Linked DNA regions of Homo sapiens: region 1 is linked to region 2. A link means that fine-mapping ties the variant in region 2 to the expression of a gene that starts in the linked region. Tissue or cell type: tibial nerve. Region 2 holds a variant in brackets; the other region holds the start of a gene. All regions are shown on one strand. Distances are from middle to middle.

The links. PIP is the estimated chance that this variant, and not a neighbour inherited with it, causes the effect.
Region 1: it holds the start of PCDH19, and the variant in region 2 is fine-mapped to the expression of PCDH19 in tibial nerve (GTEx, PIP 0.99).

The regions. Positions count from the first base shown.
Region 1 is chrX:100,407,096-100,415,202 of GRCh38, reverse strand. PCDH19 (protocadherin 19) reads left to right here and starts at 4,930. Exons shown (of 6, transcript NM_001184880.2): 1 at 4,930-8,107. The coding sequence starts at 6,606.
Region 2 is chrX:100,634,041-100,642,147 of GRCh38, reverse strand. TSPAN6 (tetraspanin 6) reads left to right here and starts at 5,342. Exons shown (of 8, transcript NM_003270.4): 1 at 5,342-5,540; 2 at 6,402-6,590; 3 at 6,896-6,970. The coding sequence starts at 5,454. RefSeq lists enhancers at 5,147-5,762, 5,763-6,378. The variant A/G (reference allele first, on the strand shown) is at 4,001.

The DNA of each region.
Region 1 (8,107 bases), 230 kb after region 2:
TCTTGGAAAAGGCAGGCATCGGGGCCATGGTGAACAATTTTAGCACTTAAGAAACACTTTCTCTACTTTGTTTATCTGCTACAGCTCCCTGCTGTTAATGTTATCCTCTGTCACAGGGTAGGAAAAGGGGTGGAGTTTGAGAGGAAGAGAGGGAAAAGTGTGAGGGACCTCAAAGGTTTTTCTTGGCCTCTGTCCTAGTCTTCTTGGTGTTCCAGAAGGGTTAGAAACAGCATCCAGGATAACCCCACCCCTGCCCAGCAGGTCCACATCCCTGATTGCTGCTGTTGATGCCTTTCCTTATACTGTCTGGGACAGTGGCGGGGGAGGCAGGAAGGGAGGGAAGGACTATCTAGAAATCGGGCAATCATTGTGGGCAGAAGAGAACAGAATTTTAGGAAGCTGTCGACATAATATATCTCATCCTAGTTTCTCCTCTAGGAAAATTTATAGTACATAGACATACATGCTGTTATTAAATTAATCAACTGCATGTTAAACTACATAAGGGCAAGGTCCACTAAAAAAAATTCTCAATCCTTAACACAATGCTGGACAAAAAGCCAACACTTGTTGATCTCACGAGGGAAGTGGTTGAGTTTTGTGTAATGAGGTCGTCTTGGAAAATCGTTGAACTGCTCTGCAACTGTTTCCACATCTGCAAAGTGTCTTTATCTCCCAGGGATATTGTAAAAATTAAATAAGATGATGACTTTAATAATGACACTTTATAGTTTTTTTCCCATTTCCTCCATTTTCATTCTTTGATGTTCTCTTCTCTAGGCATTGTAACCTAAGTAAGGAGATCAGATATGCAGTCAGAAGAAGTTTGATTGAATTTGCTAATTTTAAAATCAATTTTTTCTTTCTAAGAGAACCTCATCAGGCAGCTGGTCAAACTAGTTGGGTGGAATGGGATCCCCATGATATGCAGTGAAAGCCAAGCTAGAAGATGACCCACTTTTCTGCAGCCAGGGCAAAGAGAAGGGGGCAAAAGGAAGGAGGAGGAGGAGGAGAGAAAGAGAGAGACTGGAGTTATTTGAAGGCTAATCTCTTTTGAGCTTAAAGCAAACATTAAAAAAAAAAAAACATATCTCAGGCTAGGGCACAGTAGCTTATGCCTGTAATCTTAGCACTTTGGGAGGCCAGGGGAGAAGGATTGCTTGAGGCCAGTTTGAGACCAGCCTGGACAACAGAGAGATACCCCATTTCTACAAAAAATAAAATGAAAAGAATGAGCCAGGTGTGACAGTGCACACCTGTATAATCCTAGCTACTCAGGAGGCTGAGGTGGTAGGATTGCTTGAGCCCTGGAGTTTGAGGTTACAGTGAGCCATGTCTGCAGCATTGCACTCTAGCCTGGGCGACAGAATGACACCTTGTCTCTAAAACAACAGAACAAAACAAACACATCTCAGAAAGCTTCCTTAAACTTGTCAGAGTTACAGTCCCTCATATACTGGTATCTTGGTTCCTACCATTACTTTTCACCTTTCTGGACAAAACCTTTCACCATACCCTTATCAATCTTAGGAGAACAAGAATTAGCTTCACATACTGGTTTGATCTAAAAGTAAGATTTCTCCCATTTTGGTCCTCTTTTATTGCCATTCAGCATGATTTTAGTGGCATGGATGACATTTTAAAGACAAAAAAAATTCTCTTTGCCAATTTTGATTCTGGCCTCAGTGGAGCTGCTTTGACCTGGAGAGCAGCCGTAGGCGGCATAGCACCATTAGTATTAGTATTTCTTAGTAGCTGTTGGATTAAAAAATACTGAGGATGGTCACTAGATGTCCCTCTTGTGTCTCTAAAGAGGCTGAGGAGGCGGGGCTCCCTTCAGGATTGAAGTAAAGGGAAGCTAAAACGGAGAGAACTTTCTTGTTTTTATTATCTACATGCAGAACGATTTTATTCAGTTAGTTAATAAATTCCTGATCATGAAAGTGTTTTGGGCTACTCATTTAGTCAATGGCATTCTTGGAGTATAATGATCGAGTGTGCCTATTAGAAAAAAAGAAATTCTGAGGGCAAAGGCTGTTGTTAGGATTATCTGTAGAAATAGACTGGGGGATGGAAGAGCTATTTTGTGTGTGGGGATGGGGAAGGCTGTGTAACTGTCACTTTGAGATTAGGGGTGGGGAGGAGATAATAGGAAAGAAGGAAAGCATAGGCACACGCCCCTGCCTCCCTTAGCACCTGGCTTGTGTAAAAGTGGTTTGGTAGCTGGAAGTACTTGGATGCTCTCCTTGGAAAAGAGGGGTGCCTGGAGTGTGAACAGCGAGCAGGAAGCAGGGAACACGGTGGCATCGCCTTAGCAAAGAGGGTTTGTCTTTGCAAATGCAGAACATGTCTTTACATTGTGATTGCAATTATGAAGGTAATGACATTGTACATGAATTGAATTCTCCTATTTATCTTTAAAAGACAGCAGAATATAGACATTCTATTAGCACTCCCTAAGGTAAGAGGTCTGCAGTCTTCTTATCTTGTTGTGTGCATCTTTTCAGATGCTACGACAATGTTAATCATTTTACCTGAGTAATTCTTCCATTTCTCGTTACCTGGGGGATTGTTAATGGCCGAGACTACTTCTCAGACTCTTTGCTCCCGCTCAATCAAGCCGTGGAGGCGCCAGTTTACTTTTATTGATCAGTGGGTTCCTGACAGCCTTCGCCACAAGGAAGCAGCATCATCCTTTTTTAACTTAAAGGGGGAACAGATCGCCTTAAAGTTTACAGCTAAAAGCTTCTAAGCATAGCATGCAAACATTTTAGCATGCTGCTAATTGTTCTGTTTAAATAGTCCAAGCAATATTTTAGAAAGCTGCCAAACGCCGAATTCACATCCCGTGATCAGATAGCAAACCCATTTCAAATGCCTTTTTAGGCCTTTTTAATTAGACCAAGATGCACTTCATTCCCATGCTCTGACATCAAAGGTAAATAACTGTGATAAATCAAATGGAACCCTTCCTTTCGCGGAGCCCGCGAGGTGCGCCCACCGCTGCCTGCCATGTTGTCATTCTCTACTACTTGCCCATTTCTCCAACGGTGTCTGGAGAAAACCGGTCGGGCCACCGGGCTCCCTTGAGCCACCACTCTGGTGTCCACCCGCAGCTCTAAATGACCAAAATTAAATGATACTCATTGCAGAAGCATCGGTTTTCTCCCTGTTGTTCTGGGCCGAATCACATCCTAACGTGAAACAGTGAAACGACCCCCACGCGGAAAGCGGATCAGGCTCCCTACGCTCTCCCTTTGGCCTCGGCTACATATTCAGGGGATCGCAATCTCACTCGCGAAATAATTTCTTTCTGTAAGAGGAAGCCGCCTTTCCCCTCTCCCACCGCCAAGGTAAAGGCTGCTAAAGTAGCTCTTCTTGGAAGGAAAAATATTTTAAAAAGCAGCTGGGTTGCTCTCCACAAGAAGATGGCAGTTTTGAGAAAACCCATTATGTGTCCAAATGCCGGTTTCCTTTTCTTGTTTAACGCTTTTTAGAGGGCAAAAATGACGCTCATGTGAAGCCCACAGGCTCGAGCCAATGTCGCTGGGCTAATTATGAGTCTGCTTATCCCACTCCCAAATATCCGAGACGACTCACTCAGAAGACATTTTTACTCTTCCAAGAATTGTGAATTCAGAAGCAGCTTCCCCACATTCTAAGAGAAAAAAAAACTTGTTTAACGGGCACGTTTTTGATTTTTTTGCCGCTGGCGACCTTAATTAAAAGCCTCAGAGCCCGGGTGGGGAGGAATGCCCCGCTGCCCCCAGGGAGCCTTCAGTGCAGAAGGCAGGATGAGCTTGATGTCAGCCCTGGCCACGCCGGCCTCCCGCTTCCCAGTACTGGCACATGCCGCAGCCACCACCGCCGCCCAAGTGGAGCTGGCAGCCCCCTGGGACCGAGACCCCGCGGGAAGGCTGGGGCGCCCTGCACATCGGCGCCGGCTCCCAGCTGTCGGCGACCTAAGCGGACATGTATGGCGTGCCCGCCCCAGAGCTCCTGCCCGGCTTTGAGCTCTGCTGGCTTGGCGCGGCGCGGCGGCGTCCGCTCCACCGGCTCTTCTCAAACGTACAGTTTATTTATAGGGAGCTAAATTCTCCAACAGGGTGGGGTGAGGGGCAATGAAATGTGTCCGGCCCCCTCCGTAGCTCATTCTCTGTGCCACATATCCCATTTGATTAACAAGCAACAGACAAGAGCGAACCGATCCAGGGGCCCTGCTGGGAGTGCGGCACGCAGAGAGTAGTGCGGCGTCTGCCCGGGGTGGAAGGATGGGGGTGACGGTCCGGGGGGGTGGCGGCCGTGGCTCTGGCCTGATGTGAAGACACACCGGCTAAGAGCTGGATGAATGACCACCTCAGGGGCGCTTTCTCCTTCCCTTTCTTCCTTCCACTACCAGAGAATGAGAAGAGAGGAAAACAAAAACAGACGATTTTTTAGGGTGAAGAGACAAGGAGAAATAGAGGGATATATATATGTGTGTATATATATATATATGTGTATATATATGTATATATTATATTCAAGATATGAAGATATGTAAGGGAGGTAAACACGATAAGACAATCATATCATCCTCATCTTTCCTGAAATCTCTGCAAACATGAGAAGCGCACAGTTCCCGGCGAGGCTCAGCCGCAGCGCCAGCACACCGCCTCCCTGCTCATTCCTGCCCTATTGCTCCTGCCTGGCCTGCCTGGCCTGTCTGTCCGTCCTCCCATGAATCCCGCCAGGGCTCCATGGGCCGGGGTACCACTTGGTCCCGCCGGTGTGAAGTTTCCGCTTGGCCCCGCCCCCCCGCTACCCCCCGCCTCCGCTTGGCCCCGCCCCAAGACTGGAGCCCGCTGGCGGCGCGCTGATTGGCCAGGGCCTGGCGTAGCCGGGCTCGGCAGCTTGAGCTTTCTCCGGCTTTCTCCAGACTCCGCGGCCAGTAGTTTGCGGCATCCGGAGGAGCAGCAGCAGCAGTAGCGGCGGCGGCTGGCGCAGCGCGGAGACGGACGAGCGGGCACAGACGGCAGCACAGCTCCCGTGCACCATGCCTGGCTTGCCCGGGAGGCACTGGCACCCGCGTCCCTAGCCCGGCGCTGGCCCTTGGCGCGTTGCGCTCCGCAGCATTCCGGCTGAGCGATTTCATCCGAAATCCTAAACCTCCTACCCCAAACCCATTGCCTCCTGCTTGCTCATACTCCACACTCACACTCCCCACACCACACACTCACTCTTCCTCTCTCTCTCACACATTCACACACAGCCCGAGACAGACAGAGAAAGCGAGACAGACCTCCCGAGTGCGCGAGCGCCCGGGAGGAAGGGAGCCCAACGCAGCGCGGCCAGCGCCTCTCCGGGAAGATGAAATCAAGACGCTCCTGCAAGTAAACTTCGGCGGCGACAAAATCGTCGACTGTGGCAGCTGCTGAGGCGGACCCCAGCGACGTGCAACTGAGCTAGGAGGGCTTCCTCCCGCGGCGGCGGCGGCGGCGGCGGCGGCGGCGGACCTTGGAGCGACACCCCAGCCCAAACGGAGAGAAGAGAAGCACCCGGTACCCACGGCGGCGGCCCCGCCTCTCCTGGCCGGTACTGTTGTTGCCTCCCCTTCCCTCTTCCCCATTCCCCGCCACCCCCGGCCATTAGAAAGACCGGGGCTTTGATTTTCTTGGACAAATTGCCATCTCCCCGTTTCCACAAACTTGACGTGGAGGGTCGGACTGCGTTGTTAACTTTGATTTCCTAGACGAAAACGCCCGCAGACCCTCAACTGCTCTGTGGGGGGAACTCCGCTCCCACCTCGGATCCTGGACAGACGCGCCCCCAAGCCCTTCGAAGCCAGCCTTAGCGCGAGGGAGCGCGCTCAAGCTCTGGCAGCCTCTCTCCCCTCCCCCTTCCTCTGCTGGCCCCGGGACCGCCATCCGACTCAACCCTATAACCGGGTGCCCGCGGCGCTTGCCAGTAACTGACTCCCGTCTGCGACACCCCCTTTCTCCCGAACAGGCCTCGAAGAGGCCAGTGTGGCCCCCCCAGACCCCGGAGGGCGCATTCCAAGCGGGTACTCTCTCCGCAGTGAACTGGGAGCGCTGGGGGGAGGTCTTTGCGCATGCCAGGTGCACAGACAGCGAGTTCGCCAGCCTCAGTGCCGGTGCACCGCGGCGGGCCGGGCAGTGCCTGAAAGGCTGCGCCTCCTCCGCCCTCTTTACCTTCGCCTCAAGTACTGTCCGGACTCAGCGGTGCGTCCTCCAGGCCGCGCAGACGCCGCCCGACCCGCAGCCCTGGGCGGCTGCCGACAGTCGCGCCCGGCTAACTTTGAAGGGGTAAAACTGAGTAGCCGGGCTGGAGGGAGGGGGCTCGGGGCCGCGCGGCGCTCCCTTGGCCCCTCGGAGCCCCCGGGGCCCCCGCGAGCCCCCGCCGCGTCCGCCGCAACCTCAGCATTGGAGCCGCCGCGGGTGTCCCCCGCGCGCCGCCGGGCCGCCCTGGGCGGGACTTCTCCCGCGGCCTCCGGGGCCACGGGGCGCGCGCAACAGGCGGCCCGAGCCGGCGGGAAGCTGGAGCGCCGACGGCGTCGGTCTCGGAGGGGTGTGGAGAGGCGAGGCCAGGCAGAGCCCCGTGCAGCCATGGAGTCGCTCCTGCTGCCGGTGCTGCTGCTGCTGGCCATACTGTGGACGCAGGCTGCCGCCCTCATTAATCTCAAGTACTCGGTAGAAGAGGAGCAGCGCGCCGGGACGGTGATTGCCAACGTGGCCAAAGACGCGCGAGAGGCGGGCTTCGCGCTGGACCCCCGGCAGGCTTCAGCCTTTCGCGTGGTGTCCAACTCGGCTCCACACCTAGTGGACATCAATCCCAGCTCTGGCCTGCTGGTCACCAAGCAGAAGATTGACCGTGATCTGCTGTGCCGCCAGAGCCCCAAGTGCATCATCTCGCTCGAGGTCATGTCCAGCTCAATGGAAATCTGCGTGATAAAGGTGGAGATCAAGGACCTGAACGACAATGCGCCCAGTTTCCCGGCAGCACAGATCGAGCTGGAGATCTCGGAGGCAGCCAGCCCTGGCACGCGCATCCCGCTGGACAGCGCTTACGATCCAGACTCAGGAAGCTTTGGCGTGCAGACTTACGAGCTCACGCCCAACGAGCTGTTCGGCCTGGAGATCAAGACGCGCGGCGACGGCTCCCGCTTTGCCGAACTCGTGGTGGAAAAGAGCCTGGACCGCGAGACGCAGTCGCACTACAGCTTCCGAATCACTGCGCTAGACGGTGGCGACCCGCCGCGCCTGGGCACCGTTGGCCTTAGTATCAAGGTGACCGACTCCAATGACAACAACCCGGTGTTTAGCGAGTCCACCTACGCGGTGAGCGTGCCAGAAAACTCGCCTCCCAACACACCCGTCATCCGCCTCAACGCCAGCGATCCAGACGAGGGCACCAACGGCCAGGTGGTCTACTCCTTCTATGGCTACGTCAACGACCGCACGCGCGAGCTCTTTCAGATCGACCCGCACAGTGGCCTGGTCACTGTCACTGGCGCTTTAGACTACGAAGAGGGGCACGTGTACGAACTGGACGTGCAGGCTAAGGACTTGGGGCCCAATTCCATCCCGGCACACTGCAAGGTCACCGTCAGCGTGCTGGACACCAATGACAATCCGCCGGTCATCAACCTGCTGTCAGTCAACAGTGAGCTTGTGGAGGTCAGCGAGAGCGCCCCCCCGGGCTACGTGATCGCCTTGGTGCGGGTGTCTGATCGCGACTCAGGCCTCAATGGACGTGTGCAGTGCCGTTTGCTGGGCAATGTGCCCTTTCGACTGCAGGAATATGAGAGCTTCTCCACTATTCTGGTGGACGGACGGCTGGACCGCGAGCAGCACGACCAATACAACCTCACAATTCAGGCACGCGACGGCGGCGTGCCCATGCTGCAGAGTGCCAAGTCCTTTACCGTGCTCATCACTGACGAAAATGACAACCACCCGCACTTTTCCAAGCCCTACTACCAGGTCATTGTGCAGGAGAACAACACGCCTGGCGCCTATCTGCTCTCTGTGTCTGCTCGCGACCCCGACCTGGGTCTCAACGGCAGTGTCTCCTACCAGATCGTGCCGTCGCAGGTGCGGGACATGCC
Region 2 (8,107 bases):
CTGGCTCCCTCTTGGCATAGTGTACGGTCTGAGTTCCTTAGCATTGCATACCATGTTCTTCACAAGCAAACCCCACCTATGTCCTTAGCCTAGTTTTAAGCATTCACCCCATGCCTCCTCATTCTGGACACCCTCTGCCTCATGCTCTTCCTTGAGCTTCTTGTTCTTCCTTTCACACCCTGGAGCCTCTGCACAGACGTGTTCACTCTGCTCCATGGTCCCTTCCCTCCTTTCTTGGCTTGTTGGAACTCTACCCACCCTTGCTGCTAGGAACCTTCCCCCAGCCCATCCCAGCCCAAGATGGTTAACTTTGCCTTCCTTTTCTCTCACAGCACTTTGTACATATCTCAATTTTAGGACTTTTCACACTTATTGGCATTGTTCTTTACTTATCTCTGACTCCTACTAGACTATGAGTGCTTATAAGGGCAAGAACCTTATCCTAGTCTTCTTCATATCCCCAGCCATCCAACACAAAGCCTAGCACATGCCAGGGTGAAGATGCTGCGTAAGGCCTCAATCCCACTGAAAGCTGGAAGCAGTGGGACAGAAGGGTTCCAGAGAGAGGTTAAAGAAGAAAGTGAAGGGGGAGAATATGGAAATCATAGGGAGATCAAAGTAAGGGGATATGTCAGAAGAGAGAGACAGCATTCTTGCAAAGCATTGGGATTAATAATATAAAGAGCTCACCCAAAACAAGTGAGGTTAATTATAATAACCCCAATGTTTCTGCAGCACATACTCAGTGTGTAAAACACAACGTTAGATACTGTGAGGCTACAAAGTAAAATAAAACACCTCTCTTTATGGTTTGGTTGGGAGGATAAGACAAAGGTGGATAAGGAGACTGACAGCATCCAGGCATACTCAATTTCTTAAGTTTCTTAAAGTTCAGTACCATTTTCAACTTTAAGACTTTTAATATGAAGCCCCTCAGCAGTAAATAAGGTATTGTTTTACGAAATATTAGATATGGAAACTGACTTCCCTAGTTGAGATCTCAGGAAAGCTCAACAAGGCTAGACTAGAAACAACTTTCTTAGAAAATGGACATAGAATTGTCAATTTTAATACCATTTAAAAGTATTTATGGCTGGGCGCGGAGGCTCACGCCTGTAATCCCAGCACTTTGGGAGGCCGAGGCAGGCGAATCACAAGGTCAGGAGATCGAGACCATCCTGTCTAACACGGTGAAACCCCGTCTCTACTAAAAATACAAAAAATTAGCCGGGCGTGGTATCGGGCACCTGTAGTCCCAGCTACTCGGGAAGCTGAGACCAGAGAATGGCATGAACCCGGGAGGTGGAGCTTGCAGTGAGCCGAGATGGCACCACTGCACTCCAGCCTGGGCGACAGAGCGAGACTCCGTCTCAAAAAAAAAAAAAGTATTTATCATGTCTATGTGTCCCAAACTGTATATTATGAGCTTTTTTGAAGAAGGCAAGATCAGGGATGGAAAGGGAGGAAAGGTTTCACAGAGCATCTGAAAGGAGTGGATGGAAAACAAGGGCATAAAAATAGACAAAGAATAGAATTTCAGAGAAGGAGAATGGGAATGCACAAGAGACAATAGAAATAAAGAGATATTCCATTAACGAAATGGATTTTTAAAACTGTACATATGAATTAACTGTTTAAATAATGAGGTATCTGATGGCTGTAACATAAAATATGAGATATTAAGAAAATAAGTAGGATGCGCCTTTAAATTCTATGATAGGCACTTAGCCAAAGGTAATTGAAGGGATGCTAGAAAAGGGATTAGAAAATGAAAATGGTAAAGTTATTATGTGAATAAGAGATAAGATGTACACTCAGCGATACAGTTTATTATTATTATTATTGTTGTTGTTATTATTTTAGTGGTTCCTGAGAGAGAGAGGAATGTCCCAAGACATTATCTAGGTACTCAATTTAATTTTTTCTGTTTTATTATAGTGTGATACTGGGATGGCTTAGACATTTAATTTTTTATTTAATTTCAACAATCAATCCTGAGTAATTACTATGTGGTTGCTCCCAGAGACCAGTTATGACCTCAATGAGCAATCAGCTCAACAGGGATTGGCCGAGCAGAAAATGAACTCATCAATTGGGCATTATGTCCTAGGGTACTGAGGAGAGTATAAAAGGGGGCATAGGGGCCCTGCCACACTAGCTCTTCAGTAGTTTCTGAACATCTAGACGGTAGGATGTAGAATAGGTAAGTAGAAATGCAAAGCAGATATTGCAGTAATTGACTAAAGGGCTGGGTTAATGGGAGTGAGTGTGTAGTTAAGACAGTTATGGTGTTAGAGAAAGAGGTGAGGAAGGAGGGACTTTTTACTGAGTTGGGATTGAACTGGATATTCAGTAGAAGCAGAAAGTATGAGTGAAGTTGAGGGTGGGCAGGGACTAGGGAATAGGACTTGTTTAATTGGGGGGTTGATCATACTGACCTGGTACAGAGCAGAAAATTCACATTGGAAAAGCAGTAGGAAATCAGTTGAGATTGTATTGGGATGAGGGGCTTGGTAGGGATGGAGGGAGGCTGGAGGTGGCACAAGGGAGGTCTGACTTAACAGTGAGCCCTTGTTTATGTCATTTCCCTTGCCTGATGTCTAGCAATGAAAAACATTTACACCTAATCTTGAAGGTTACAGGAAATTAATTGGGAAGGGGGGCTACTAAATGTTCCATGTAAAACAAGCAGTAACAATACTTAAAGTATTTTCCTTTTTTCCTACATTGTTGGCATCAAATTGTGTTTCTGTGCTCAGAAAGAGGGAGAAATTAAGAGGTTGAACAAGAAAAAGTACTGAACTCTCTGCCTTACCACTCTGGGGCAGGTAGGGTTACTTCCTAGGTGGCTGGGCTATTGGAGTGAAGGCAAAAGCCAAACTCAACCAAAAAACCCCAAGTGCAAGGCAGAATTGGGGCAATCATTGAGGTTCTTAAGCTTCAGAGGCTCCGAGGAGTCCTTGTTTTAGGTTAAATGTCTGTGCAACAGCAGTCTTTACTCAGGTTACTCTGCGCAGAGGCAGCTGTACGTACAACAGCAGCTATGTTTCATCACAAAGTGGGCCCCATTTCTGATGAAAGACACAGAAGTTGCCCAGGTTTAGTCCTAGGCAGCTTACTTGGTCTCTTTCAACCTGTTTCTTCATCTGTAAAATGAAGGTGCTAGGTGTGTCAACCTCATAATAGGGTTCTTGTGATGTGTGCATACGAGGTAATGTGTATCAAGCTCTTAGCAATAGTGGTTGGTATACAGTCAATACTTATTATCACAGTCATTATTAATACTTTAAAGAATACATTTATCTAGTGGCCTAGGGAAATACTTCTTAAATTGCCTTAAACGGGATTAGATGCCCCTTTGGTCTGGGTTTGTACCCAAACCCAGGCCTAGGTTTGAACTAAATTGAATTTCTCGGTTTGGTGGCATTGTGGGGGTGGGGAGATGGAAGTGGGTGTAGCAGAGTAGGAGGCAATGGTGCAAGGTGTTGTAGCCATAGGAATATGAATTTCCATGTCAGCATTTGGTTTAATTTGGCACCGAGTGTTATTCAAACAAAGCAGCGTTGTGAGTGGTAGAGGAAGGGAGAGGAGGAAAGTCAACACATTCTTGGAAATAAGATGTGGCTTTTGCTTTGCTATTTTGTTTTTTCTTCAGCTACAGACATATTTCTTTGCTCTTGGGCTCACACTGTAAATCCCTTTCAGTACATATCTAAGTTTCAGAGAAACTTCTCTTTAAGATGACAAGAAGTTATCAAGACTTCCCTTGATCCTTGTTTTTAGTATAAGAACCCTTCAGTTGGGGTCATTTAGCCTAGGGAGAAATCTTTGCATATACTTAGACACCCCCCTCCACCATGTTGAATATTTGGTATTTCCTAACGACTTTACCTCAAAGTGTTTGAAGGTGTATGTAGATGTATCGTTTATCCATTCTCTCCATGTATTTGTGTATTAGGCCTTTCAAATTTTAGTAAAAATTTTAGTATAAAGCCTGGCA[A/G]TGCAATAATTAATTTTCCAACAGTTGCTGCCTTGCACCTCAGACGTCTGGCAAGATGTTATAGGAACTGGTCCTAGGTCAATATTCGAAGCACAGGGAAGCTCTGTGTGACCAAGTCAATGGAACTTTCCTGTGTTCTGGTCCTGAGGTGTATGTTTAAAGCAACGTTTCAAGCAGAAAAGTTTGAGTATTCATCTCTCCTCCACAAATGCAGGTCTTTTTGCAATGGCAATAGAGTAAATAGCCACTTGTGATATTAAGCTTGTGTCAATGATGAAGGGTTGGATTGCATAGGGAACTGATACAGCCTTCTAACCCCGTTCCTCTAGAGATAACACAAACTCACTTAACACTCAGTCTCTGCCTTCAAAGAGCTGACGCTTTAGTTGAGAAATCAGACCTTAACGCACCTCCTGTGTTGTAACAACATAGACCAATATATTCACAATATATAACATTAGGTTTTAATCTCTCTGTAATCAGCTGGGTTTTGATGGGAAAAACCAGGTGGCTGGAATGTACAGTGCCTTTCTGTTTTAACATTTAAGAGGAGGTCACACTCACCAGGGATTTTTCCATTGCACTCTCTCTTTTTAAAAGTTTACAGCGAATAGCTGAACTTACATTTCACTATTATGTAAAAATACTTTCCCTCAACTTTCCAATTACTTAGGGGATAAAAAAGGAGAGGAATACTGGGGTTTTGCAAAGTCCTGCAGGTAAATTCTAAAGTCATTATTATCTTTAATACCTAGCTTAGAAATTCTTTCAACAAGTGGTGATTATTTTCCTCCATTCACATCTCCCCTTCCTAACCCATAAAACAATGTTCACAAATTGAAAAGCACACAAGTGAGAAAAAAATCAGCCTAATTCCACCAGAGGTAAATTTCACTGTTCCTTTCAGTTTTTGTCTAAGCACACGTGACTGTATGTATTGCTTTGCAATCCGCTTTCTTTTTGCAAATATATTTCTTGTGGGTATTTTCCCATGTATTTTCTTAGGTCGCTTTTAACCTCTTCATTCTTTTCCTTCTCTCTAGGGCACCAGGGGCCAGGGAGGCCCAATCTCAGAGCGCTGCGGGCTCTGCTGGTGATAGAAACAATATGGTGAAGTTATAAGGAGAGGGGAGGGGTGGGGGGCGGGAAAGATTCCTTAGGATAGAAAAAAAACAATGAAGAAAGCTCCACTTGAAGACCTATGAAATTTCCGACACTAGAACCTTTGTATATAGTTTTCGGTAACCTTCGGCAGGGGGCGCTCTGAAATTGTTGCCACTTTCCGGACAGCCTCCCATACTTTACCCTCTACAAAATTGTACAGTGTTTCCGGCCCTTCTCAGTTGTGGACGCTCGTAAGTTTTCGGCAGTTTCCGGGGAGACTCGGGGACTCCGCGTCTCGCTCTCTGTGTTCCAATCGCCCGGTGCGGTGGTGCAGGGTCTCGGGCTAGTCATGGCGTCCCCGTCTCGGAGACTGCAGACTAAACCAGTCATTACTTGTTTCAAGAGCGTTCTGCTAATCTACACTTTTATTTTCTGGGTGAGAGACGAAGGCGCCTGGGGCCGGCAGGGGATCCCGGGCTTTTAGTTGTGGGGGGTGTGACCCTGAGCGGCGGGAGCTCAGGTCGGGAACGGTGTGGGGTTTGGGCGGCCATCGCGCCTGGGACCCCGACGCCGGCGACCAGTGACTGGGCCCCGAACAAAGAGCTCAGGCATCTCGCCGGCGCTGGGGTCGGAGTGCGGGACGAAGGCAGCCGAGAGGCTGAGCTGGGACCCAGACGTACCAGCGTTCGAGTTCGATACGGGAGGCGAGGTGGGGCCTTAAGCCCCCAGAGCACGCAGACGGTGACCCTGGACCTTTGCAAAGGCAAGCAAGGCTTGCCCGGCCCCTTTGAGGGCTCACTTGCATAATAGTGTCTTTCTTTTCACTGCTTCGTAAGAGAGGAGTGTTTCGCAGGTAAGTATGGTATGCCTCCACTCCCGCCAGTCTATCCTTGGGCTTGCTTTTGTGTACCAGTCCTTTGTACCCTGTGCCCATCCCTACCTGGAGAGGACGGGGGAAGTTTCTGGAACTCATAAAATCACGTTTTTTTTTTCCCCTTCAAGGTTTTCTTCCTAAGGTTGGAGTAAGATAGTTAAGGAAGTTTTGATCCCTAGGGCAAATATGCCATGGGCTTGTGTTTACACACAAAAAGATGAATTTTAAGAATTTTGATAAGATACCTGGTCCACAGCCTGCTCTTGTGTGCAGATCCCCCCCTAACCCCTTCTACTCTTCCCCCTTGTCTGCCGTATCCCAGCATATTACACCTATTGTGCCTTAAATACCTCATGCGTTGTGATTTGAAGATGCTGCTGTACACAGTGCGTAACTGTTTGTATTCTCTGAATTCCCACATAGATCACTGGCGTTATCCTTCTTGCAGTTGGCATTTGGGGCAAGGTGAGCCTGGAGAATTACTTTTCTCTTTTAAATGAGAAGGCCACCAATGTCCCCTTCGTGCTCATTGCTACTGGTACCGTCATTATTCTTTTGGGCACCTTTGGTTGTTTTGCTACCTGCCGAGCTTCTGCATGGATGCTAAAACTGGTGAGTCCTTGTTTTCATTAGAATTGATTCTTGGTTTTAGAAAAGTTTTGTATGTTATAGAATTCCTTTGTTGGAACTGGCCATGGCCCTTTACAATTTTTCCTGTTCCTTATGGAAACTTATCAAGTAACAGTTCAGCTGCCAGTTTCCACTTTCAAAATAGACATGTTGTTATTTTCCCTGCCCTTTTCAATGAAAACATGATGAACTAATTGAGAAGACGACCATTATTTTTTCTTTGACTCCCTTTGCAGTTGTGCTATATCTTATTTATGCTGACTTGGACTTTCTTTCTTATCCTGCAGTATGCAATGTTTCTGACTCTCGTTTTTTTGGTCGAACTGGTCGCTGCCATCGTAGGATTTGTTTTCAGACATGAGGTAAGCCTGAATTAGGGAAGCTTAGCATGTTACATTTATCCTCTGAGAGATAAAAATGGATTTATTAAAGTAGAAGAGTCAGACCTCTGTATTTAAACCTGTAGCTGACAATAATGGCCTTCTTGTAAAAATTCTGGTCCACTTCTAATTTAAAAGAAAATTTAGAAAATTGTAAAGACTGATAGTCACCAGAAGAAAATTACTTACTTATATTCCCTGTCGTTTTTCTGTGTATAAATACCTATTAAAACGGAGATAGTACAATTTATAACTTTGCTGATAGGAAAATATTCAAAGCACAAAATTGATAACCTTCTTATGCCTTGCATTTTGAAAAGATTGGATATACTTAATGCAAATCATCAGAAGTTTAATATTGGGCCGGGCGCGTTGGCTCACGCCTGTAATCCCAGCACTTTGGGAGGCCGAGGCAGGTGGATCACGAGGTCAGGGGATCGAGACCACCCTGGCTAACACGGTGAAACTGTCTCTACTAAAAATACAAAAAAAAACAAAAAATTAGCCGGGCGTGGTGGTAGGTGCCTGTAGTCCCAGCTGCTCGGGAGGCTGAGGCAGGAGAATGGCATGAACCCGGGAGATGGAGCTTGCAGTGAGCCGAGATCGCGCCACTGCACTGCAGCCTGGGCAGCAGAGCGAGACTCCATCTCAAAAAAAAAAAGCTTAATACTGAATTAGAAAACAGGTAAACTTGGGGTTGTTCAAATAACATTCGGTGAGTAGCAAAGGCTCATTAATGAGAGTTCTCATAAAGTGGTAGCACAGCCTCCCAAAGTAAGGTTTTGTAGCTTACAAATTCCATAGGCATCGAATTTGAACTCAGTTTAAAGTGGAGAAAAATTAGCAGGGTGCAGAATACAGCAATACTGCATTGCCACTCAGATAAATACATATTCCCACAGCACTTTGAACTTGTAGTGGTTCTCATCATATATTTTAATGTTTTGCTTAGTAGTCCCCTCAGCTAACCTATACCCCTTAGAGGACAGGACTGTACCATGGAAGTTAATTACTATACATGTTGCTGCTGTCAAAGATATGACCATTGGTCAGATTCGAGAACTTATTTGACCTGAAACCAAAAACTTTCTAGAGGATTTTCTTACTGACATTGTGTTT